Homo sapiens: one gene and its partners. The protein of the gene in region 1 purifies or fractionates together with the protein of each later gene. This does not show direct contact. Each region holds a gene or a part of one and is shown in the gene's direction. Other genes may lie near its edges.

Region 1 (3,500 bases):
AAGGGGTTGAGCTGGTACTATAGGTGCAAAAATGTCTGTCATTTTTTCCCATTTCAAGGGAAACCTTAAGGCCCTAAGCATGGTTGTGTGCTGTGGCTCAGCTAGTCAGGAGGCAGGGCCTGGAGGGCTGCTGGGAGGGGAAGGGCCTGCCCTGTCCCCAGCAGCCTTTGCCCCCATCCCCAGGCTGGAGAAGCTACGCCACCAGCTCATGCCCATGTACAACTTCGACCCCACGGAGGAACAAGATGAGTTGGAGCAGGAGCTGCTGGAGCATGGGCGGGACGCCGCCTCTGTACAGGCTGCTACTTCTGTGCAGGCCATGCAGGGCAAGGTGGGCACTGACCAGGCTCCCCACCCCGCCTGCAGCATCCTCTGTCCTCCACCCTCACCCTCCCTCCTTTCTCATGCAGCTTTCTAGCACCTGCCTTGTGGTCAGATGGCAGGTATTGGGTATACGGCTTTTTCCAGATTTGTTCAGAAAGTGGTCATATTGCTCTGGGGCCACCCACAAACTCACAGCGCAAGGCCAGGCCAAGGCAGTCCTGGGATACAGCCTGGCTCTGCCCCATAGCCTGCTGATCTTGGGAGCCCCACTGGCATCTCTGAGCCTCAGTGTTCTCTTCCACAATTGAAAATCCTAATTCTTGCCCCATGTGCCCCCACGTACTGGTTAGGAAAGTAGGAAAGGACTAATGGGAGAGACTGTTGGCGGCTAGGACCCCAGGTTCCTCTGCTTCCTGAGGGTCCGTGGTCCTGAGTGGGTTGTGGATGGGGTTAGACTCTTGGACAGCGGTACCTCTGAGTAGGCTGGTGGATTCCCAGTGGCTGACAGACCCAGGCATGTGAAGATCTCAGCCAAACTTGCCTCCTGTGTCCAAAGGGATAGGTACCTGTGTGGCCATCCTGTTGTAACCACTGGGCTGCCTGACCACTTGCCACCATTTCCCCAAATCCCCAAGGGCCAGAGCACCATGAGCAGGCCTGGCCTGCCCCTGACTTATCCAGCCTCTTTGCGTCTTCTTGGGCTCAGAAAGAATCCAGGCTGGAAGTCTGAAGACCCTTTGGTTTTGCCACCAGCTCTGCATCACCTGGGTCAAGATATATTGCCCCCTTGGGATATTCAGGAACTCGCACTGAGAACCTTGGTCCACCCAGCCACTGGGACTTCTGGCCACTTGATACTTGTTTCCCATGTTCCTCCTTGTACCAGCCCCTGTGCTAGGGCCTGGGGATACAGAGTCCAGCCCTCTGATCCCCCACTGGGAAAAGGCAGTGCATGCATAATTAAATCAACACAGTAAGTGCCTCCAAGGTGACAGGGCAAGCTGGGGAGGAGTCATCTGAGCCAAGTCATATTTGTAGGCTGAGCTTGCAGGGAGGGCATTCCAGGCAGAAGCCATTGCTAGTGCCAAGCATAAGCAGGCACCAGGAAGTGAGGGTGGAGGTGACCAGGCCAGTGAGTGCATGGCCTTGCCCATGGTCTCTGATGCCCCTGCCTGTCTTCCTGCAGACTACTCTGCCCTCCCAGGGCCCACTGCAGAGACCCAGCCGGCTGGTGTTTACCGATGTGGCCAATGCCATCCATGCGTGAGTGGCCTGGGACAAGCCTGGACTTCTGATAGAGACCCATCACGGTGCCTACAGAGCTCCCCACTCCCTGATTGTCAAGACCTACTCTGAAGATCTTCCCTGCCAAGACACAAGAGGGCTGAGCCAGGTCCTAGCTGTTCTCCAGACCCACCTGCTGACTTTAGACTCTAAGAGAGGGCCCTAGCCAGGCTGGACTTCTGACCACTGACTTCTCCTGACCTGAGGGCCCTGGCACAGAGGGCATCCCTCATGCTGAGAAGGTCAAGAGCCTCTGCTGGCTTCCTCATCCCCTGTCCAGATCCCTCACATCAGGGTCTGCCCCGCTAATGTGGAGGAAATGAGGGAGATACGGAGTGGGAGGGATTGGGGGAGGAAAGGGGAGGTTTCCCTCTGTTAGGGAGAGACCTGTTTTTTGGAATCTGGAGCCTCCTCTGGGGTGGGGAGAGGAAACCACCCAAGTTATAGGGACAGGGTAGGGCAGCATCTGTTATGGGCCCTGAGAAGCCCAGAGATGGAGCTGAAACTGTCCAGTATGCAAGGATGCCAGGAGAAGGGCAATTCACACCCAGGGTCCATCCATACTACGGAGGGTCCAGGAGGTCTCCCAGCCACCCATCCTTGGCAACCAGATGTTACTGGGGCCAAGCTAGGATGGGAGCTGAGGGGGAAGGAAGTAGGGGAATGGAAGTGGAAGGATGCAGCCCCCCCAGACCTGCCGAGAGGCCTCATGCATGTGCATGAGTGTGCCCATGGGCAGACATGTGCCTGTCCCAGCACAGCGGGCAGAATGAGATTGTCCACACTGGCCCCACCCTCCAAGTCGACCTCTACCCCATGGTATGTAGTGGAGCATCAGGGTAGGCTATCTTCTCTGCCTTCAATCTTCAGGGACTGCAGGGAAGAGGGAAGCACGCACAGCACGGTTCCTCTCTCCACTGCATTGTTTCACTGGGCTCACCTGCTTCTGAAAACGGCTCCCTGTCTTGGGCTCTAATGAGGATCTGGGGTTGGGAGAGGCTGTTGGTCTGAGGGCAGTAATCACAGGCTGCAGGCTAGAGGGGGCAGTTATGACTGCCTGAAAGTGGGTGAGGGATTGCACTTCAGAAAAACATCTAAAAAACTTAGTCTATGTTTGAATTCCCCACCTCCATCCCATCTATGGGAAGAGCCGTTCAGTGTTTAGAGAGTGGGGAGATGGGTCCCTGCACTTGGCCTCTCCATAAGCCTTGGAGGGTCAGGGCTGATACCAGGGGTCCTGGCAAGCCATTGGGCAGAGACAGACCACAAGAGCAGGGCATTTTTTTACGCTGGGCATACATATGCACACAAGCATGCACAGAGGCATGTCCCGTGCCCAGCCTCTCCACCGTCACTGTCCGCTGCTGGCTGGAGGGGATGCAGGGGTAGTGTATGCAGACCTTCCACTGGGCAAATGCCATGTGTCAGGAGGGAAAGGCCTAGGAAGCCCCCATGGGGAAGGTTCTGGATTTATTCCCTCCTCTAAATGCTATAAATACGTTAGCACTTGAGTCGACTGGAGGCTGCCAGGAATTCAGGATGCATACAGCTGTAATTTAACCCAGAGCAGCTCCACGTGAGAGCATTAAAGATGTAATGAAGATGTTTACATGGAGAGTGTGTGAGCCTGTGACGCTTGGGGTGTGGAACCCTAGGAGGGGCAGGATGGGTGAGGGGCTGTGGGGGGCCTGGGGATAGTTGCTTGGATCACAGCTATGAGGTGGCACCCCAGGTTTCTCTTGAGCCGTCTGAGGAAATGCCTCTGGCCCTGACTTCGAGGTTGCCCTGGGGCTTCATTTCCCAACTGTGGATTGGGGTCCCAAGGCCTGTCACCCCCTAGGGTGGAAAGGTCAACTGGACAGGACCTTGTGAGACCGGAGGAGGAAGGGGGC
Region 2 (3,500 bases), on another chromosome or scaffold:
ATTGGTTGCCATCCTATTACATACACACAATGTGTCCTCTTTAAAGAAATATTCATCACACTAAAATACCTGAGAAAGTCATTTTTTATCCCAAATCATTGTTCTTCAAATGAGTGTATATTAAATGAACTGCATTTACCTTTATACATATAAACAAAACATGGCTTAAAACAGATTTTTTCATGATTCAGTTTACAAATGCCATGAGTTTTCTTTTTGTGAAATCCACAAAAAGATGAGTTCTGAAACTATTACATGCTGAGGAATATTTAAGATGTACAACAGAGCTCCATGCTTGTATTTTCCTATGTGCATCAAAGTAATTGTCGAGGATTCTCACAAAATATCAAGAGTGATCAAGCTATCCCAGAAATTCACTATGTATACGTAGTTTCCTTTCATTCTGTTTTCTTCTATCATTGTTTTTGTTTTTTTACTACTTACCACTCATTCTCCCTTCTCTCACTCTAAGGGACTTTTATAACTAAACTTTTAGTTATAAATTTTTCTGACTGTGGTATAATTCAGTGAAATTTTATTTAACTGTGACCTTGCCTTTGCAGATTAACCCAACTCCTACAGATAGATTTTAATGCTTTTTTCCCCCTCAGCAGTTCTCATTGCCCCAACAAGATATATACGTGAGACAAAGGAGAAATTTCTTCTGCAGTCAGCCTTCAGACCTCTCTGATCTTTTACGAGCATATGTCAAGTTGTAGCTCCAGTTAGTTATTTGTTGCCATTGCCTATTAGTCATTATTTCCTATGGTTGTTTATTCTTATATTTGAATGACTTCCACAGAGATAATGTATATTCATTGAAATTAACATTTAAAAGATGTTAAGATAGCCTGTCAAAGTGATGGTAGCAAGGTGGCCAAACTGTAATTGAAAATAGTGGCATGTTTATATTTTCCTGACAAAATAAGTCATTTATTCCTAAATCAGCTGATATTTGGTTATATCATTATTCCTTATTTAATAGCTTTGCAGAAATAAAAACACTAATCATAATTCATTTGGTTTTATATTACTATGTTTCAAATTGAAGGGGTTTTTTTTTTTCTTAATCTCTTTTAATTAAGAGTTAGTAGCATGCAACTGTTGTCCCAGCTACTCAGGAGGCTTAGGCAGAAAGATCCCTTAAGCCCAGGAGTTTGATTTCAGTCTGGGCACCATAGCGGGACTCCATCTCTAAAATTAAATAAAAATTTTTAAAAATAAGAATCACACAGAAAAGAAAAGAAAAAAAGGTAACACCACAAACCCTGTCTCTTTAAGGGGCATTCTAGATCATGTTGGTGTTTGAGGGTAGACACCCATTTTAAAACCAGAAACTCCCTTTGTTTTTTTCAGAGCAGCAATCTTCCACTTTCTCAACTGTACGAATGCTGTCTAGTGAGTAGATAGATTATCTGCACACAGTTTGAATTTTAGGTGAATTCCTTCCTAACTTCTCCTCATGCTTCTGCTTTCTGTTTAATGTGTGCTGTGGAACTGAGTATTACTGTAAACCAAACCTCATTAGAAATGTGACTGTGCTTGAAGACTCAAAGATACTGTGAGGCATTTCACATAGATGCAATTTCAGATATTTGTCATAGATTCTTTCCAGTGCTTACAACTGAAGTTAACTATATCTGTCATTTTTCTTTGTCTTAAAACTTATTTTTTGGTTACCCAGAACTTCCCAGTATTTCTTTCACTATATTATTAAGGGCTGGAAATTTTTAACTGAAATTCATACACAGATTTGGAGATTGATTAATAAGCATGTGTGGCTGGACGTGGTGGCTCACACCTGTAATCCCAGTGCTTTGGGAGGCCCCCCAAAAAATGTGGGGAAAAATAAATCCTAGTAAGCTAATAAGAGCTTTTGTGAAAATTTGGGTTTAAAAGCAGCTTTTGTGACATCTTCAGATACATGAAGAGAAGCATTTCTAATTCTGATTAAAAAAAGACTGGCAATAAATATAACAGTTATAGAAGTATAATTACAGAAAGATGAGAGGCTGTTACATGAGTTTAAAACAATTTTAAAAGGTACACTAAAAATTTTGAAAACAAAAGGATGTTTTAGAACTATGGGTTTTCTGTTCTTGTTGTTCCAGTTTACCTTCTGAAGAACTTCTTTTAAAATGTTTCTAGAGGAAGTCTATTGGCAATGAATTTCTTTACTTTTCCTTGACTTGAAAATGCCTTCATTCATTCTGTCTAGATATAGAATTTTAAAACTTTTTTTTCTCCATCAGTGTCTTTTTCTTTTCCATCTGGACCACCAATGACACGTTAGATCTATAGGTCTCCAAGGTTCTATAACATGCATTTTAATTGCTGTCTTTTTCCCTTCTTCAAATTGGATAATTTCTATCAATCTTCAAATTCACTGATTTTTTCCCTGTCATCTCCATTCTGCTATTCAACCCGGAAGTTTCAGTTATTATAATTTTCAATTGAAAATTTTTCATTTGGTGCTTTTTTATGGTTTCTCTGCTGAGAATTTCTGTCTTTTGATTCATTCCATTGTGTTTTCTGTCACCGTTGGAACATGGTTATAATTGCTGCTTTAAAGTTTTGCTTGATAGTTTGAGCATCTGGATTATCTCAGAGGTGGCTTGTCTTTTCTCCTGAGAGTTGTTCAATTTTCCTGATTCTTTGTATGTTGAGTAATTTGAGATTGCACCTTAGATGTTGTGCATGCTATGTTGTGTAAACTGTGTGTCTTGTTAAAATCTTAAGGATGTTGATGTTTGTTGTTAGCAGTCAAGCCCAGTTAAAATCAGACCATAAGTTCTGTCTTAGTGTCCGAGCAGACAGTTGACCAAGTCTCAGTCACATTCTCTAAGCCTTTGTTATGCTGTTTTGAGGCTGTCTTACACATACCTAGTTTACGGATTAGTCTGAGACTTTTACAGATTTTTCCAATCTCACGTCAGTTCTCTAGGCCTTTACTTGTTGGTTTCGGTTTTTTTTCCATGCATGTTTTATCCAGAGGTTAATCCTGAGACTTGCAGCAGTGATTCAAATTTTAGTTCAATGCTCTAAGCTTTTGCTGTGTGGGTTTGGATCTCACCTGAAAATGCGTAATTTGGGGGTTAGGCTGAGACTTCTGCATTTCCTACATACAGAATTAGATCTTTTCTAGCTCTCTCCTCTCCATATTTGTCCCACATGTTCCATGCTTTTCAGAGTTAAAAATTATTAGTTCCATTCAAGTTCAGTTAGTCAATGCTTTAATAAAGTATACTGACTATGTAATAAAGCTAGCCATATTTGAGACTGAAGACTAAAAATTTTAATTTGGCTAAAATTTATTGAGAACCTACTATATAACATTGTATTGGGTAAGGGGCATAGAAGTGAGTTATACATATGCCTTGCTCTTAAATAAATTGCAGTATAAGGCAAACTGTAATATACTATCGTAACTAACATAACAGAATGTATAATAAACACATTTGCTCATCAAATATTGTATTGTATTGTATCCTATGGGCCAG
Region 3 (3,500 bases), on another chromosome or scaffold:
TGTGTTGACTGCATTAGGTCAGGTGTGGAATTTTCCACTTATGGCACCATTTCAACACGTAAAAAGTTTCCGATCTTAGAGCATTTTGGATTTCAGATTTTCAGATTAGAGATGCTCAACCTGTATATGCTTAGGAAATACTTAAAGAGTTAATACTCAAGTCACAGGCAGTGTAGGTCAAGAAGTCCCAAAGGAATGTCTACCTTCATTACACTCATCAGCATGCTTGCTCCCCATCTCCTCCTTCTTTGGGGTAGTGCCTTCATTCCCTGGCTTCCTGGTGATATCATCCCTTCTTAAGGCCCCAGACCAGAAAAATGGGTCTGGGTGTCCAACTCTCAAGTCCAGCAGACTATACTTACACTCAGCCTGGACTATATCCAGAACAGCCCAGATAGTTCTTCCTGTTGTTAATTACAATTTTTTTTTTTTAATTTTTTTTTTATTGATAATTCTTGGGTGTTTCTCACAGAGGGGGATTTGGCAGGGTCATGGGACAACAGTGGAGGGAAGGTCAGCAGATAAACAAGTGAACAAAGGTCTCTGGTTTTCCTAGGCAGAGGACCCTGCGGCCTTCCGCAGTGTTTGTGTCCCTGATTACTTGAGATTAGGGAGTGGTGATGACTCTTAACGAGCATGCTGCCTTCAAGCATCTGTTTAACAAAGCACATCTTGCACCGCCCTTAATCCATTTAACCCTGAGTGGACACAGCACATGTTTCAGAGAGCACAGGGTTGGGGGTAAGGTCACAGATCAACAGGATCCCAAGGCAGAGGAATTTTTCTTAGTGCAGAACAAAATGAAAAGTCTCCCATGTCTACTTCTTTCTACACAGACACGGCAACCATCCGATTTCTCAATCTTTTCCCCACCTTTCCCGCCTTTCTATTCCACAAAGCCGCCATTGTCATCCTGGCCCGTTCTCAATGAGCTGTTGGGCACACCTCCCAGACGGGGTGGTGGCCGGGCAGAGGGGCTCCTCACTTCCCAGTAGGGGCGGCCGGGGCGGCTGGCCGGGCCGGGGGGCTGACCCCCCCCACACTCCCTCCCGGACGGGGCGGCTGGCCGGGCGGGGGGCTGACCCCCCCACCTCCCTCCCGGATGGCGGCTGGCCGGGCAGAGGGGCTCCTCACTTCCCAGTAGGGGCGGCCGGGCAGAGGCGCCCCTCACCTCCCGGACGGGGCGGCTGGCCGGGCGGGGGGGCTGATCCCCCCCCACCTCCCTCCCGGACGGGGCGGCTGGCCGGGCGGGGGGCCGACCCCCCCACCTCCCTCCCGGACGGGGCGGCTGGCCGGGCGGGGGGCCGACCCCCCCACCTCCCTCCCGGACGGGGTGGCTGGCCGGGCTGAGGGGCTCCTCACTTCCCAGTAGGGGTGGCTGGGCAGAGGCGCCCCTCACCTCCCGGACGGGGGGGCTGGCCGGGCGGGGGGCTGACCCCCCCACCTCCCTCCCGGACGGCACGGCTGGCCAGGCGGGGGGCTGACCCCCCCACCTCCCTCCCGGACGGCACGGCTGGCCGGGCGGGGGGGCTGACCGCCCACCTCCCTCCCGGATGGGGCGGCTGGCCGGGCGGGGGGCTGACCCCCCCCCACCTCCCTCCCGGACGGGGTGGCTGCCGGGCGGAGACGCTCCTCACTTCCCAGATGGGGTGGCTGCCGGGCAGAGAGGCTCCTCACTTCTCAGACGGGGCAGCTGCCGGGCGGAGGGGCTCCTCACTTCTCAGACGGGGTGGTTGCCAGGCAGAGGGTCTCCTCACTTCTCAGACGGGGTGGCCGGGCAGAGACGCTCCTCACCTCCCAGACGGGGTCTCGGCCGGGCAGAGGCGCTCCTCACATCCCAGATGGGGCGGCGGGGCAGAGGCGCTCCCCACATCTCAGACGATGGGCGGCCGGGCAGAGACGCTCCTCACTTCCTAGATGTGATGGCGGCTGGGAAGAGGCGCTCCTCACTTCCTAGATGGGATGGCGGCCGGGCGGAGACGCTCCTCACTTTCCAGACTGGGCAGCCAGGCAGAGGGGCTCCTCACATCCCAGACGATGGGCGGCCAGGCAGAGACACTCCTCACTTCCCAGACGGGGTGGCGGCCGGGCAGAGGCTGCAATCTCGGCACTTTGGGAGGCCAAGGCAGGCGGCTGCTCCTTGCCCTCGGGCCCCGCGGGGCCCGTCCGCTCCTCCAGCCGCTGCCTCCCGGGCGGCCGTTAATTACAATTTTAAGAGCAGATTTCTGAGCCATATTTCTGACTGTGCCAAATAAATGAAATTCCTTTTGAATGTAATGCTGTCCTCTAGCAGCAGTGGGTAGGAAGGATAGGGAAATGGTACCTGGAGATGATAGTACTGTGCTCTTATTATTATTAGATTGTTATGAGATTCGGTTTTTAGACATTGAAACAGAGATGACACAGAGGTTGAAGATCCCAGCTGCCCAGGGTTTCCCCCACTGCTTTATAAAGATACTGCCTGGCTGGGCTCAGTGGCTCCCACCTGTAATCCCAGCACTTTGGGAGGCCGAGGCGGGCAGATCACCTGAGGTCAGGAGTTTGAGACCAGCCTGGGCAACATGGTGAAACCCTGTCTCTACTAAAAATACAAAAATTAGCTGGGTGTGGTGGCGTGTGCCTGTATTTCCAGCTACTCTGGAGGCTGAGACAGGAGAATTACTTGTACCGGGGAGGCGAAGGTTGCAGTGAGCCAATATTGTGCCACTGCACTCCAGCCTGGGTGACCGAGGGAGATTCTGTCTCCAAAAAAATAAAAAAATAAAAAGATGCCTCCTGGTGAGCTGGGAATTCTGCAGTGTCTGAGTTAAGAGTAGCGGTATGGCCGGGCACGGTGGCTCACGCTGTAATCCCAGCACTTTGGGAGGCTGAGGCGAGCAGATCACGAGGTCAGGAGTTCGAAACCAGCCTGTCCAGCATGGCAAAACCCTGTCTCTACTAAATATACAAAAATTAGCCAGGCGTGGTGGCATGCTCCTGTAATCCCAGCTACTCAGGAGGCTGAGGCAGGAGAATCACTTGAACCCTGGAGGTGGAGGTTGCAGTGAGCCGAGATCGCACCACTGCACTCCTGCCTGGGCGACAGAGCGAGACTCCATCTCAAAAAAAAAAAAAAAAAAACAGTAGAGGTTTGTCTGCAGCCCCAGATGGTGGCCTCCCTGGGGTCCCATCATGTTGGAGCCCAAGTCCAGTCCCCATTTTGCCCCCTGTGACAGACTTTGAAACAATTTGATGTGTTACATAAATACTCTATATTTTTAAATCTCGAATTATTGCAAGTCTATGCAAATTTTCAATTTCAAATAAATTTTTCTGTTACCTGAATGTTTTACATATGCATTATGTTTATGTTAGTTTTCTAGAAGTCAGCAGAGTTCTCTGAGTTATAATGAGATGATAAATATAAACGGTGTTTTATTAGCTATAAATGCGTATCACTTAAATGCTGTCTGGTAAGCCAATCCAGGATAAACTTGTTAACATCTTGGGTACAGTTGTCA
Region 4 (3,918 bases), on another chromosome or scaffold:
AGACAGTAGCATGTTAACATCACTGCATTGAGTTTTTGTCTGGTGTAAAGTATGACTTTTAATGTAAACAAACTGCAGGTTTTTTTCAAACTAATTTTAAGAATTTAGTCTTATTTCGTTGTAAACTGTGTATCTAATTATATTACATTACTCTGTTCAGATGGGATGGTTACTACCACTTGTCCATGATTTTCATTTGAAAAGCAAGTATCTATATCATTTCCCCCCAGTCAGCATTATTTAACACTCCCCTTAACTGTCTTTGAACTTTCTCTTTTAACAAAAATGTCAAGTCTTTATAGTTGTAATATCACCATGTTTCCCATTTCTGTTAATACTTCTATGAACCCCTAAAGTATTGAAGGGAACTAGCTGTCAGTTTCAAGGATTACAAGTTTGAGTCTCCTAGTATTCAACATCATTCTGAACCCTGAAATAATATTTTTCTCTGTTAAACAATTTTTATCTGTTTGCCACCTCTGTTGTTAGAGGTGGTTGTCAATTGACCTTACTAAGTTAGCTGTCTTTGATGAGGAATTATTGTTATTGGTTCCTGAATAAAACATTAACCTTTTAAGTCAGAAGGAACCTCGGTACTTCTTAAGGTTTGTTTGTGTTTTCTAAAACCAGAGAATAAGGAACTGATTTGGCTATGAGGTTTAACATTATAATTTTCTGTAAGCTTTCCCACAAAAAAACATTGTTGATTTGAGGATATAATAATGTTTTAATCTTTTTAAAATATAAGTGGTTATTCTCTGACTTGGTAACTATGTTCTGAAAACACTGCATTTAAGAATTTTTAAAAATTGGTTTTCTAAAATTAAAATGTCCAAATTAGGCATATTGCTGAGCTCAAATTGATGTGAAATGCCATGGTTCCAGTTGAATTTTAAGCATATTTTCATTTAGATATAAAATATATGAAGTATGCTTTGTTGATTATAGTGAGAACCCATGACATAGTTAACCAAAGAATATGTTTGGTTCAAATAAAAATAGAAGCTTAATACTGGGCATTCATACTTTTTAAAGAGAATGAATGAAGAAATCGGTTTCCTGCTGTAGTTCTCTATGGGTAAGTCTTAGTAAAGACGAGAATGCTGAAGTCGGCCGTGGCGATTCCCTCCTAGGAACTGGGAGGTGTGGCTTGCCCATTACCCGCTTGAAGCTCACATCTTTACCCTCCTCTCCCACTGTGGTTTGATCTTCACCTATTCCCAGGCCCTCCCAGCAATTGGAGAGGTGTCTTTTTTTTTGGTTTTGGTTTTTTTTCTCCCCGTCTGCATTCTTAGGCCTCTTAGCTATTAGGAACTGTCAGATACATACTAGTAGCTAATTTTCCTAGCCTGAAATTATATACTGCATCTGCACTATGTACCTACTAGGGATCTGACCTCAAGTGTTTTCTGAGCCCAGGCTTCCTGGTGTGGTGTCTTTTACCACATAAAATTATTACAAATTGCAAATGTTGGTATTGTGATTTGATTATCTGTACAAAGAAAGAAGCTCTATGCAGTGAGTTTGTGGTTTAATGGTCACAAAAATGTTAGCACTGCTACCACTCAGCACGTGTAAAATTTTTTAAATTTATAAATATTAAAATTTTAAACTTACACTAAGACTTTTCAGTTTTATTTAAAGACCCAGGGATGAGTGTACTGTTTAAATATTTACCTCTATTAACATAACTAATGAAGGTATAAAATTGCATTTAGTTTTTCAGAAGATGCTGCAATATGATTTTAGGAAATAAGGCTATGTATTGAGCCAGTTATAGGCTGAATATCAGGTTGATAAAATTTTATTTGTATTTTTAAAATTCATAAATGGGAGTTAAAATGTGTCTTTTCACTAAATATTTTTATTACATTTTTGTTTTGACCATGTGTGATTTGTTCATGGGTATTTAGCTAGACTCTTTTATGAAATGCATTGAAATGGTGCTAGTTTGTTTACCATTATAGGAAGATTGACACTGGGGACATTACACGGTCCTAAAATAATTTTAAATTTAAAAAAATGAAGACATCTGTACAGATAAAAATCAAGATTTGCATCACCTTCTGGGAGAACCCGTGGTACTCACAGAATATCCAGTATTAGAAATATAAAAATTTTGTCTATATTTTATAATATTTATCTCAGCCCACAGTCTTAGAAACAGTTTCACAGTTACTAGTTAAGTCATTATCTTTGGTGCATATTTAGTAAATACTTTTAGCAAGTCATTCTTTTTGGCCTTTCAGGGAAAGTGGTGAATTACCATATTACTGTGTGCTAGATAGATCCACCCTTTGCCCAGTGTTAAATCTTGTAAACATATGAAGTGAAAAGTTAATTTTTAAAGAAAATGCATCTTTAAAATGTTCATTTTTAACCTGAATTTGCTTTGAATATTCTTTGATTTGTAATGTTGTTATTTAGCTTATATTGAGATTTATTCCACTCCAAAGGTGGATAAAGAAAAGTTGTTTAAGAAAACCAATTAGAGTGTATTTTGAATTTTTGTTTCTTTCATTACCAAGTGTGGGGCCATACACACAGGCTAATCATCTGTCATTTGAGACCCACAGATGATTTCAAAGGTCCCAAATAAATACACATCTATAACTGTTTTTTAAAAGACATCTTTAATGGTGCTCTCCAAAAATACAATTCGGTTGCTTATGAGTGATGCCTTTGACAGGCTGATTAGATTATAAAACAGTTTTGTTTTTTTAAACATAGGGTCTCAGATTGAGTCTTGTGCATTCTATGTAATCTCAAATGGCAGTTCAGTTTGACTTTCTTTTAAAACTAAGTGGAAATGGTATATTTGGTGAAACTAATGAAAGAATCTTTTGCTGGGAAATTCCATACAGCACCCCCAGCAGCATCCTGTCTCAGTCTGGCGTATAATTCAACCTCCTACTGAGTGTCCCTGTAAATTATTTTTAATATATAGCATGAGAGTGAACTGAGGTAAGTCATTGATGTTTCCCAGAGATGATGAATGAACAAAAGCAAATAGGATCTGCTAAACATTTTTATTCCCACAGTAGTGAGCAGTTTTGTTCTTGTTTTGATAATGTTCATTTCTGCCTAATCTTAGGCTTCAAATACACCTTTAAGAAAGCCCAAGATGTATTGAGTAGTAGAACTTCTTATTTGTACACCTGTTTATAACTGCACTGCCCTGGATGTTATGGTTATTTCTAAGGACTGACCTGGTAAAGCTACTTGAACTGGTAGACTGCAGGGTAGAGGCAGACCTAGATTCAATGTCTAACTAAGCTGCTTAGGGCTTACATTAATTTCCACAGGTCTGTTATCCATATCATGAGTTTATAAGTGTTCCTCCCAAAGAAAAAATTTAAAAGTGATGGATGAAATATAATAGTAGATGCTCAATAAATTCCATTGTATTTAAAGATTATTTCTGAAAACAGATTTCATTTCATTAGACAAATGTATCATAACACTAAGTCTGATACCTAATAGTCAATTGCTTTTAAATACATGCTGTAATATCTTCATATTGATACTACGTTATAGCCCTAACCACAACCACCCTAGGGATATTGGGGTAGACTTCACCATATTATTTACTGTACTTTTTTTTAAAAAATGAGAAAATGGATCTATTTATGTTAACTATCTTAGTCTGTTCTATTTAATTCAACTATCTTACTCTGTGCTATTAGAATACCTGAGACTGAAGAACAGAAACTTACTTCTTTCATTTCTGGAGGCTGCCCTTTGACTTCCATCATGTGGAAGAGGCAAGCAAGCCATCACCAGATGGTGGCGAGAGAGAATCAACTCCCTCCTTCAAGCCCCTTTGTAATGGGACCTAATTTTATTCATTAGGGAGGAACTCTCTTGGCCTAATCACCTCTTAAAGGCCCCACCTCTTCATACTGGCACATTGGCAAC
Region 5 (3,500 bases), on another chromosome or scaffold:
CTGCTCAACTCATGGTTTTAGGATTAAATTTGTTTGGTAACAGTATGGATAGTAAGGAGAAATAATGAGGGAAAGACATATTTTAAGGCTACTGTGCAATGATGTGGTGAGCACCAACCATTAAGAATCGAATAATGGGTAGAATATAAGGTGAATCAGATTTTTTAAAAAGAAGCATACTTTAGAAATTAATAATTAGTGCAGCTCCCTTGTTTAACAGATGCACCCTTTCGGGCCCCAAAGGGGAAGTGGCTTGTCCCCACAGAGTCAGTTAATAGAAGAGGTGGGGCTAGTACTCAGGCCCTTTTGCTTGAAGTCCTGCACTCTTTCGGGCTCTCTTTCAAAGGAAAAAGGAATGGGACACAGTAATGGGTTAAAGGGAAGGAAGAAGAGTAAAAAAACTGGGTGAAGATTGTCAGCTATTATATAGTTAATCCTTTTTATTTCTAAAAACTGAGTACCTTATTTTAAATTATATACATTTCTATTTGCTGCACAGGACATTTCAGTGTCATTGTCTTCTTTAAAAATGGGAAAAACAGAATAAAATCTAATTGATTAGAAAAGAAAGAAATGACTTAAGTTTTTTTATATTTGTAGTTTGGGGATAGCAATGGTTTTCTCTTAATGCCTTCCTGTCCCAGGGGCAGGGAGTAGAGTGTTGAACAGAACGTGGTGTTTACATTCTAGTGGGTCTTAGTCCAAGCCTCTCATTTTACAAGAAAAGACTGTCCAAGGTCATGTAGCTAGTTAGGTAAATCAGTTTGAGGCCCTGCTGTAATTAGGGTTTGGTTTAAAAATTAATATTTGAACAGTGAAAGCTGTTAACTTCCGGTTCAGTAGAAGCAAGGAGAATGCAGATAAAAAAGACCCAGATATCTAGCAAAACACACAACTGCATAGAAAGCCACCTTGTTAATATCCTCCAATTAAGTAAAGATAGTGTTTTGCAGAAGAGATGTGTTTGGTTCTCACTAGTATTGTTGGATGTAAATGTTCTTGGTCTCTGGGTCTGGAAGGGACTTTGAGAAGCTGTCCAGTTTTGATTTTGAATAGCATTACTTCAAAATCATTCCACGGCACATAAGAGTCTGTTCTATTATTAAAGAGAGTGAGCTCTCACAGCTGCTCTAAATAACTTATTCTGATTTTTAACCACCCCCCTGTCAGAATTCTTCACTCTTTACTGCATGGCTAATGTAAACTCTGGCCTGCCAAGTGCGTACCAATTGGTTCTGTTCTCTACACAACAGGAAGAGTTGGGCCTTTGTAATCTCTCCAGGGGATCAGTAGAAATCTGAACCAGGTATCCTGTGCATCTCACAGAACTTAACAATTATGAAATGTACCTTATCCATAAGGAATACCATCAAACATTAATACTATAATGAATACCTTATTCATTAAGTTTGTCTTTAGAAAATACTAAAATGGAAGTTTTTGGAAGGAGATTTCATATTAACTGAGGAAATACCTTTCTTAGCTGTCTAGTGCTGTTAATTAATATTCCCAGAAGTGACATTTAATACTGTGATCTGATAAACATTGTGAACTCCTTGTTTTGTTCCTGTTTTAATGTGGATGTTCTTTCTGGAGGTATTGTTTTGTCAGGAGTACTTTCAAGATTTCATTGCTTTTTTGTTTTTTTAAGTTTAGAGCCCCAAAGTTGGTCCTGCTGTTAATATATCTAAGTCACATAAAAATAAGAAGCATATTAATTTGTAGTTCCTTAACTTACCTCATTCCTATTTCTCTTGTTCCCCTTTGGTAGTAAGTGGTAATTATAAATGGATTAAAATTGTAATACTGTCAATGTGTATAATTAAGGTTTATGGTAAAATTCATGTTATTCTTTTCCTAAAATACAACAACCCTAGTATGAGTGTGGAGTAAATATCAAATGAGTAGCTTTTAGTTAACTATTAGTGATTTGGTACATGACCTGTGGTTTATGAATTACTGTGATTTGGTAAATAAAAAAAGGCCCTTTAAAGGCTTTAGAGTAAAAAAATGAAATAATTTCCCAAATCAGTTGAAAGTAGATGAAATAAAAATAGGGAATTAAAGATGAATCAGCATGGCCTAATTTTTAAATAAGAATTTCTTTCTGATCCAGTATATGTATATATATCTCCTTTGGGAATTAGGTCTGTGAGTTAATCTAATGGTTGGAGTCTCACCTTGTAATTACCTGCCCATTCACTTTTAGAATGAATGTAATTTGGCATGAAGAGAGTACCTTTCGTGTGTCTGTGAGTGTGGTTTTAGTGAAATCATAGTAGGTTGTGACAGCTTTATACAGCATAATAATATTGTTAGCTTAAATTTTGAAAACAATTTCAATGTTAGAAAAGCAAATGTTGTAATGTTTTAGCAATTTGAGGAAAAGGTTTCAACATTAATAGAAAAATATGTCCATATACTTAAGTATTTTTATACTTACTGCCTACAATATCATATACCATTTACTTGATCTGAGTGTGAAGGAGGGCGTTTTTTACTTTTAATAAGAAAATGTTAAAAAAGATTTAGTAGAATCTGAAATCTGGAGTTCAGTTTTCCTGGAAATTTTCCTTATATGGAACCACAGAGAGAAATAAGAAGTAAACACATAAGATGGAACCATTTCAGAACACCTTCGTACATGCATTAAAGCTCATGCACTCCACTCACTAAGCGCTCTAAGTGCACTAAAGCTCATGCATTTCTTTCATTTGTGTTTAAACTTAACAAAAAATACAGTTCAAACAAGTTTCAATATTAGGTTTCCTATCAAATTAGAATGGTTTTATGGCAATCTAAACACAAGGTGATGAGCTCTTAGAGACAAGCTCATTTGACAATAGTGAGAAGTGACAGTAGCAGCTTAGTGGTCAAGGAGGGAACAGGAAAGCTTTAAAAGCCGACTCAACCAAATCACACTAGCCGATTTGTGTAGGGTGATTTGAAACAGCTTTATTATGTGTTTCATGGCCCTGAGAGGATAACTGTGTTTTCAATGATGTCACAGTCAAGAAGAGGTTCCAGTGTGGTCTGCTTAAGAAGGGTCAGGAATGTTTAATGTATTTTAGAAAGGTTTTCCTTTTAAAAAGAAAAAAAAAGAAGAAGTTGGATGGATAAAGAAGTAGGCTTCAGACACCTGGAAAATTCAGATGTGAGGACATTTCAGTCATGATACTAGATTGCAGAGGTACGACTAAGAGAGTTGTGCTTCATTTTCAAAAGAGTAAATGTTTTTTTCCTCCCTTTTTTTTCTAGGGAGTTTTACTTCCTTTTTTAAGCTTGTATTTTTCATTTTCTTTATCATAGGAATTTTTATTGTTTAGTGTTATCACATTTTTCAGTCACAACTGACATAAAAATTTTCGTTAAGCTCATATTGATAGTAGGTGACATTATTGGGTTTTTTTTGTTTTGTTTTGTTTTTTTAAGATGGAGTTTTGCTCTTTCACCCAGGCTGGAGTGCAGTGGTGTGATCTTGGCTCACTGCAACGTCCGCC
Region 6 (3,500 bases), on another chromosome or scaffold:
TATGCTGTGTATCTGGGCCATTTGTTCAATGTATTTGTCTTTCCTTATGCCAGCATCCATGCTTCATTACAGCAGCTTTGTACTTAGTAAGTGCATGAGATTAGGTGTAGTATATATGAGTTCTTCCTTTTTTGAGTTATAGGATCAGAAATTGAGTCACTTCATTTGTGTTGGTCCCCATGAAAATAGTAATCTTCATTTCTTATCCCCATTTCTAGTTGAAAAATAATATAGTTGAATTTTTTTGTTCTCACCTGTGGAGAGAAAGCTAAAATTGCTGTTTTTTTTCCCCCTGGGTTCTCTTCTTTTATAAAGTTATTTTCCCGAGTGTTGTTATTCTGTAAGTTTTCCTTTTTGCCTCCTCTCCCTACTTTTTTGCCTGTCTGGAATTAAATCTCAAATTTTCTTTATAGTCTAGGTTCCCTGCCTACTATTTCTGGGAACTTTCCTTTTTTAAGCTCATCAAATGGCCCCTTCTTTAAGATTTGCTTATTCAGATCTTTTACTCTTCAGTTGTTTTGACTTGGGCTAGAAGATAAGCATAAATATCAGAATCTCTGGGAGAGACTTTTTTTCTTTTTTTTTTCTGTAAGGGACTTTTGAGGGAAGGGCAGTTTTCAAAGGAGCCACTGCCTTTTGTATCTTCATTGAATCCCTGTTTTCCTGTTACCTGCCAAATATAGACATTTCCCTGCGATCTTTGTCTCTTGCACCATTCTCATGATTTAGTTCCTACCCAGGTACTGTGTGCTGTCTACTCTCAGTCTTTCTTACGTTCTTCTTTTAGGCATTTTTACTTAAATATCTCACTGTCACTTCACACTGAACACAACAAAAACTGGCTTTTTTTTTTTTTTTTTTGACAAAGATACTCTTTTTATTCCAGTCACAAATCTTGTCAGCATTTTCTTTCAGAAAGTCTCATGTGTTTAGGCCGGGCGCAGTGGCTCACGCCTGTAATCCCAGCACTTTGGGAGGCCGAGGTGGGTGGATCATGAGGTCAGGAGATCAAGACCATCCTGGCTAACATGGTGAAACCCCATCTCTGTTAAAAATACAAAAAATTAGCCGGGCGTGGTGGTGGGTGCCTGTAGTCCCAGCTACTCGGGAGGCTGAAGCAGGAGAATGGCGTGAACCCAGGAGGCGGAGCTTGCAGTGAACCAAGATCACGCCACTGCGCTCCAGCCTGGGTGACAGAGTGAGACTTGGTCTCAAAAAAAAAAAGAAAGTCTCATGTTTAATCTCTTCTCTATTTCCATTATCAGAGCCCAGTCAGATCTTAGTACTTTATATCTAGGTCCTGACTCATCTCTAGGGCTCCAGGCAGCCTCTGGTCCATTTCATTCTGCATGTTGTGCTAGACTAGCAATGCTCTTTTTGTGCCACCCTGAACATCCCTCTCCTGCTTAAAAACATTATTTTCCTTTTCCTTGCTTTTTCATTTTTATCTTTCTTCTTTTCATCACTTTCTTCTAAATGCTCTATCTCTTATCTCCTCATTATTTCTCAAACTTTCTCCACTCACGCCCAGTTAGCTTTCTTCTTGCGCAAGTACGCTACACTTATTCACTTCTGCTCATTCTCACTTCTGGGCCCGAGCTTCTATTTCCTTTGCCAGGAATTCCCCATCCCTAACCCTCTGTGCTTATCCAGAGTTCATCTCTTTTTCTGTGTGTTGTGCTCAAGCTATGATAAACTTCAATTCCACAGACAGTGTCCTGTTTTCCACTCCCTACCTCACTTTGTTTGCCAAGATGTCCCTATAATCCCTGATTGGCCTGTTCTTTAAAAACCAAGCATAAGTGTTATCCTCCTCTGACAAGTCTCCCACTAATCTCTTCTTCTAAGAAGGAATAAGGAGTGCTCTGTATTCCCACAGCAACTTGCACTTACCTCAGTTATATGTTACATTTTCTTAATTATTTATATCTCTCCCACATTAGTCTCTGCATTTTTTGAGCATATTAAGACATTATATCTTATTTATCTTTTAATAAATATTGGTTGAATGATTGAATTAATTTGGGGGTAACTGAGGCTTTTCCTCAGTTGTCTACAGTCATTGAAAAGTGACATGAGCATAGTGGATTTAGGACAATGTTTTTAAACTTTTAGCATTGTAACCCTGTTTCAAATAAATCTTATACATTGTACATTTCAAATGGGTAGTTTTTATGGTATGCAAATTATATCTGAATAAAGTTGTTAAAAAAAAGACTGACTGAACAGTCTTTCAATGGGGCTTGCAAAGTAGTCTGGTACAACAGTCCTGTAGCCTTAGATAGCTCTTGGTAATTAAGTGAATGATAACTGCACCATTTTGTTCTGTTCTGTTTTGTTTTGTTTTGTTTCTTTTCCTTCTTCCATTGCCTGGGCATTTCCACCAGAAGGGAGGTTAAAGAAAGAAAGAGAATGATTCAGTTAGCAACACTTAGCCACTTAGTAAACAGCCACTCTTAAGTTTTCACGAGTTTTAGAGTTGAAAAGAATATTTTTCCCAAAAAGAAGTTTGTGAGTTTTGGAATTCCTTCATGAACAGTTAGTTTATATTTGCCTGTAGCTTTCTTGTTTCACCAGAGTATTCTGCGGGTGTTAAATGTGATTTTCCTCAAAGTCATTTAGACATATTTAAAGGTTAGATAATTTTATTCTTCTCAAGAGAATGTCTTTCTTAAAGAATATAATGCTAATGTTAAATTTTAGTCAGATTAAAATAAAATTTAGTTGGGAAGTTTTAGACATTAGTTTACTGAGTACTAAAACAATATTACATATTGTGGAAACCAAAATTGAAACAGAAAGCTTGCTGTCTACCCTTTAGGAGCTTACAGTCTATTTGGGGTTGATATGATTAATGATTTTTAATTTCTTTTTTTTTTAATAGGTCACTACTGTTTTTAATGAAGCCACATCATCTTTCGATTTAAATCCTCAAGTGTTACAACAGTTAGATAGTAAACGACAGCAGGTCCAAATGACAGTTACAGAGACCAACCAGGAGTGGCAAGTGTTGCAGTTGAGAGTGCATACTTTTGCTGCCTGTGCAGTTGTGAGCTTGCAGCAGCTTCCGGAGAAATTAAATCCTATCATAAAACCATTAATGGAGACAATTAAAAAAGAAGAGAATACACTAGTGCAAAACTATGCAGCTCAGTGCATAGCTAAACTCCTTCAGCAGTGCACAACAAGGACGCCCTGTCCCAATTCAAAAATTATTAAAAACCTCTGTAGCTCACTTTGTGTGGACCCATATCTAACTCCTTGTGTCACATGTCCAGTACCAACACAAAGTGGCCAGGAAAATTCTAAAGGTATATACCTAAACTTTTATTTGGGGTAGAGAAATAACCTTTTAAATTTGTTTTTGTTTACTTATGGGTATAATTTAAGCACAAATCCAGTTCATGTTAGTGTTTTTTCCCATTCTGAGAGAAAAGGCTTGATTATAACAAAACTCTTTGTTACATGAATTTGCACATAATACTTACCAGTCACAACCC
Region 7 (3,500 bases), on another chromosome or scaffold:
TATTTCCTCCTTTATATTTTTAGAAGATGATTAGCTTAATAGTCAGTGTCAGTTGTGATTTAAGATTCTCTTAACCTTTTCTGGTTTTCTTTTATTATGCTACACCTATGTTATTAAAACAAGTTAAATGTGAATCGTGACTAGTAAACTTTTCTCCTCTTGAACACACCTGGAATCTAAAGGTGACTAGTTTTTTTACTTGTTACAGAGTACTTACACATTTCATTGCATTTTCCCCTAGAATGGGTTGACACAGTGTGGGAACTGGATTTCACAGAGACTGAGCCTTTGGATCCCAGCATAGAAGCAGAGATCATAGAGACTGGATTGGCTGCATTCACAAAACTCTATGAAAGCCTTTTACCCTTTGCTACTGGAGAACATGGATCTATGGAGGTAAAAATATAAAAACAAACTAGCCAAAGTTTGGTGTTAGAAGTAGAAGATGAAAGTCATTATTATAATCTGAAGCTTAGCTTTCTTGGTGTACAGTTCACAGGGAGTACAATATGAGTAACATAAAGAATGTGGTTAATTTATTGGAATATCCTAAGAGCTTTCCTCCAAAAGCTTCAAGGTACTTGTCTGATTTTTTTTTTTTAAGACACGACTGTTTTTTACAATAGCAAATTAAAGGAAAAGTATAAGGCCGGGTGTGGTGTCTTACGTCTGTAATCCCAGCACTTTGAGAGGCTGAGGCTGGCCAGTTGCTTGAGCTCAGGAGTTTGAGACTAGCCTGGGCAACATGGCAAAACCCCATCTCAGAAGGAAAAAAAAAAAGGAAAAATATAAAGGCAAAAACAAGAAAACTAGACCAAGGAAAATGCAAATAACAATTCAGACATGCCTTAACCTTAACTTTAAGAAAATCTGCGACCAGGCATGGTGGCTCATGCCTGTAATCCCAGTACTTTGGGAGGCCGAGGTGGGTGGATCACGAAGTCAGGAGTTCAAGACCAGCCTGACCAAGATGGTGAAACCCCATCTCTACTAAAAATACAAAAATTAGCCGGTTGTGGTGGCGGGCTTCTGTAATCCCAGCTACTCGAGAGGCTGGGGCAGATAATTGCTTGAACCCAGGAGGCGGAGGTTACAGTGAGCCGAGATCACGCCACTGCACTCCAGCCTGGGCGACAGAGCAAGACTCTGTCTCACAAAAAAAGAAAATCTGATATTATTAAACTGAGGAATGACTAGTTGAATTAACAGGTTTGTCCAAACAGTTCCTGTAAATATTGAGTTCTATCCAATGCATAGAAATATAAATTATTATTAATATTTAGGTTGTTAGTTTTCAAAAAAAACCAAAGGGTTGGGAAACAGAACAAAAGCTAATTGGATATTAACATCTCTGAAACATTTAAATGAACAAAAAAAAATTCACTTCCAAGTTTCACATCACAAAATTAAATCATCTAATTAAACATTCCTTCAGCATAACACTAAGCACTGCCTTAAGTACCTGAGTTGACAGAGTGGGGATTACGATACAATCTCCCTAGGTTGAGGTCCTCCCCAGGGACCTCAGGGAGGAAGAGTGGACATTTGAACACTAGCCAAAGTAGGTCTAGCAGCCACATGCAGTTGCAGGGGGTGGAGAGTTCAGTGCCACTGTGCATTTGGGCGCCTGGAAATATTCTACGAACCACACTGTGAAAAATGCTCCAAGAGAGGTGCGGATTTGTTGCATAGGGTGTGAAAAAGGGAGCATGGTAGGGTTGGGAAAGTTCCAGAAAGAAAGTGGCCAGCAGCGAATCTTCACAGATGACTAGCAGAAGCTTGGGTTGTAAGGCAGTCCTAGTGAAGGAGCCACCCAATGGGAACACGCAGGAAGTGTCAAGAGGCATACAGAAAAAGTGTGGTGGAACGGGATGGTAAGGTAGAGTAAGGGTAGGTCACGGGTAGCTTTACGTGAGGTTCAGCAGTGGAGTTTGAACATGTTTGGTAGAGTGTGTATGAGGTTTTGTTCTAAGCGTCCTGCATGTATTAACTCATTTAATCCTCAAGCAGCCTGTGTGAAAGAGGTTACAGTGGGCAATAGATAGGTAACATGAATAGATCTGTTTTAAGCAGACGTTCTTGACAGTAGGTGGACTGAAGTGGGAAAAATTGTGTGCAGGGAGAGCCCTTGGGAGACTGTATTGGTGATCCAGGTGTTATGAGTAATAATGGCATGATCCGGAGTTACAATTTTGGGAACTGGAAAGGAAGACTAAAAACTAGGGACATTTTTGGAATTAGAATTAATAGGGCCTTGTGAACTAGGAAGCCCTTTTGAGATATCTTAAAAACATGGTGTGAAGTGCTAAACTGACTGGGCATAGGGAATTAGAAAAAGAAAGAAGTCAGTGATCCCCAGGGTTTCAAAACTAGGAAGATGATGATATTGTTAACCAAGGTGGGGAATAAGGGAAAAAGAGCAAGGTCAAATGGAGAAACAGTTCTGTTTAGACTTCTGAACTTGAGATTCTGTCAGGAGATCCTTGGGAAGTTTAACAGGTAGTAGAAATGTGAGACCAGGAGAGAGAAGAGAGTTCTTTAAATTGAGGTATGGGTTGAAGCACAGTGATGCATGAGATCACCGAGGGTGAGAAGCAGCCAGGACAGAAATGGAGAGCTGATTGGACGGGGTCTGCAGAGGAGCAGTCACATGTAGGGAGTGCAGGGTCACTGACGCCCAGACTAGACAGCAGCCATGGGATCACATGGGGCCAAGGTGACCCCATATGCAGAGCCCTGGTGAGCAGATGGTTTAGGGTGATCGATCACCCTCGTGTGTGAAGTGGAGGTGCAGGTGGCATTAGGAATGAGGATGTGACACTGTAAAGTTAGGAGATGATTTCTTCCCCCCCCCCCCTTTTTTTTTTTTGAGACCAGGGTCTTGCTCTGTCACCCAGGCTGGAATGCAGTGGCACAGTCAAAGCTTACTGCAGCCTCAACTTATTGGGCTCACATGAGCCTCCCACCTCACCCTCCTGAGTAGCTGGGACTACAGGTGTGTGCCACCACGCCCAGCTAATTTTTTATTTTTTGTGGAGACAAGGTCTTGCTTTGTTGCCCTGGCTGTTCTCAAACTCCTGGGCTCAAGCAGTCCTCCTGCCCTGGCCTCTCAAAGTGCTGGGATTACAGGCATGAGCCATTGTGCCCAGTGGAGATGATTTCTCCCGTAAGTTTTTTAGTTAAGGAAAGGAGAGTGCTCTGCTCACTTGAATTTTGTGGGCCTTTTTTTGTTACGATACTCAAGGATAAACCATATTTAGTTCCTGCTATGTTTAGGTTATTAAAATAACCCATTTCTTCTTCATGTGTTTAGTAGGAGAAGACATGGAATGAAGATAGAATTAATACAATTGTGGTTTCTTTTCTAGGGTTTATCTCCTTTACCTGGGCCATTTCCGAGATCTCTTTCATTTCCTGCTCCCATTGCCTGCAATCTGCAGAACATTTAAATAAAGGGCTCTGATTTCCTCAGTTAGTAATTATTGGTAAAGGAATTTGAG

Evidence for each region.
Region 2: the proteins of C3orf18 (region 1) and PRMT3 purify together in Homo sapiens (affinity purification with mass spectrometry; one large-scale study listed by BioGRID and IntAct). This does not show direct contact.
Region 3: the proteins of C3orf18 (region 1) and THADA purify together in Homo sapiens (affinity purification with mass spectrometry; one large-scale study listed by BioGRID and IntAct). This does not show direct contact.
Region 4: the proteins of C3orf18 (region 1) and XPO4 purify together in Homo sapiens (co-immunoprecipitation; 2 studies listed by BioGRID and IntAct, with this or other methods). This does not show direct contact.
Region 5: the proteins of C3orf18 (region 1) and USP24 purify together in Homo sapiens (affinity purification with mass spectrometry; one large-scale study listed by BioGRID and IntAct). This does not show direct contact.
Region 6: the proteins of C3orf18 (region 1) and BTAF1 purify together in Homo sapiens (affinity purification with mass spectrometry; one large-scale study listed by BioGRID and IntAct). This does not show direct contact.
Region 7: the proteins of C3orf18 (region 1) and NCAPD3 purify together in Homo sapiens (affinity purification with mass spectrometry; one large-scale study listed by BioGRID and IntAct). This does not show direct contact.

The regions. Positions count from the first base shown.
Region 1 is NC_000003.12:50,557,748-50,561,247, reverse strand, and holds the end of C3orf18 (uncharacterized protein C3orf18), read left to right. Parts: intron 1-183; coding exon 184-331; intron 332-1,510; coding exon 1,511-1,591; 3' UTR 1,592-2,101; coding exon of another isoform or gene 2,102-2,584; 3' UTR 2,585-3,223; downstream 3,224-3,500.
Region 2 is NC_000011.10:20,488,716-20,492,215, forward strand, and holds part of PRMT3 (protein arginine N-methyltransferase 3), read left to right. Parts: intron 1-3,500. UniProt on the Homo sapiens protein: Protein-arginine N-methyltransferase that catalyzes both the monomethylation and asymmetric dimethylation of the guanidino nitrogens of arginine residues in target proteins, and therefore falls into the group of type I methyltransferases.
Region 3 is NC_000002.12:43,295,539-43,299,038, reverse strand, and holds part of THADA (tRNA (32-2'-O)-methyltransferase regulator THADA), read left to right. Parts: intron 1-3,500. UniProt on the Homo sapiens protein: Together with methyltransferase FTSJ1, methylates the 2'-O-ribose of nucleotides at position 32 of the anticodon loop of substrate tRNAs.
Region 4 is NC_000013.11:20,776,829-20,780,746, reverse strand, and holds the end of XPO4 (exportin-4), read left to right. Parts: 3' UTR 1-3,418; downstream 3,419-3,918. UniProt on the Homo sapiens protein: Mediates the nuclear export of proteins (cargos), such as EIF5A, SMAD3 and isoform M2 of PKM (PKM2). In the nucleus binds cooperatively to its cargo and to the GTPase Ran in its active GTP-bound form.
Region 5 is NC_000001.11:55,208,865-55,212,364, reverse strand, and holds part of USP24 (ubiquitin carboxyl-terminal hydrolase 24), read left to right. Parts: intron 1-3,500. UniProt on the Homo sapiens protein: Ubiquitin-specific protease that regulates cell survival in various contexts through modulating the protein stability of some of its substrates including DDB2, MCL1 or TP53.
Region 6 is NC_000010.11:91,986,270-91,989,769, forward strand, and holds part of BTAF1 (TATA-binding protein-associated factor 172), read left to right. Parts: intron 1-2,884; coding exon 2,885-3,311; intron 3,312-3,500. UniProt on the Homo sapiens protein: Regulates transcription in association with TATA binding protein (TBP). Removes TBP from the TATA box in an ATP-dependent manner.
Region 7 is NC_000011.10:134,217,468-134,220,967, reverse strand, and holds part of NCAPD3 (condensin-2 complex subunit D3), read left to right. Parts: intron 1-241; coding exon 242-396; intron 397-476; exon of another isoform or gene 477-577; intron 578-3,500.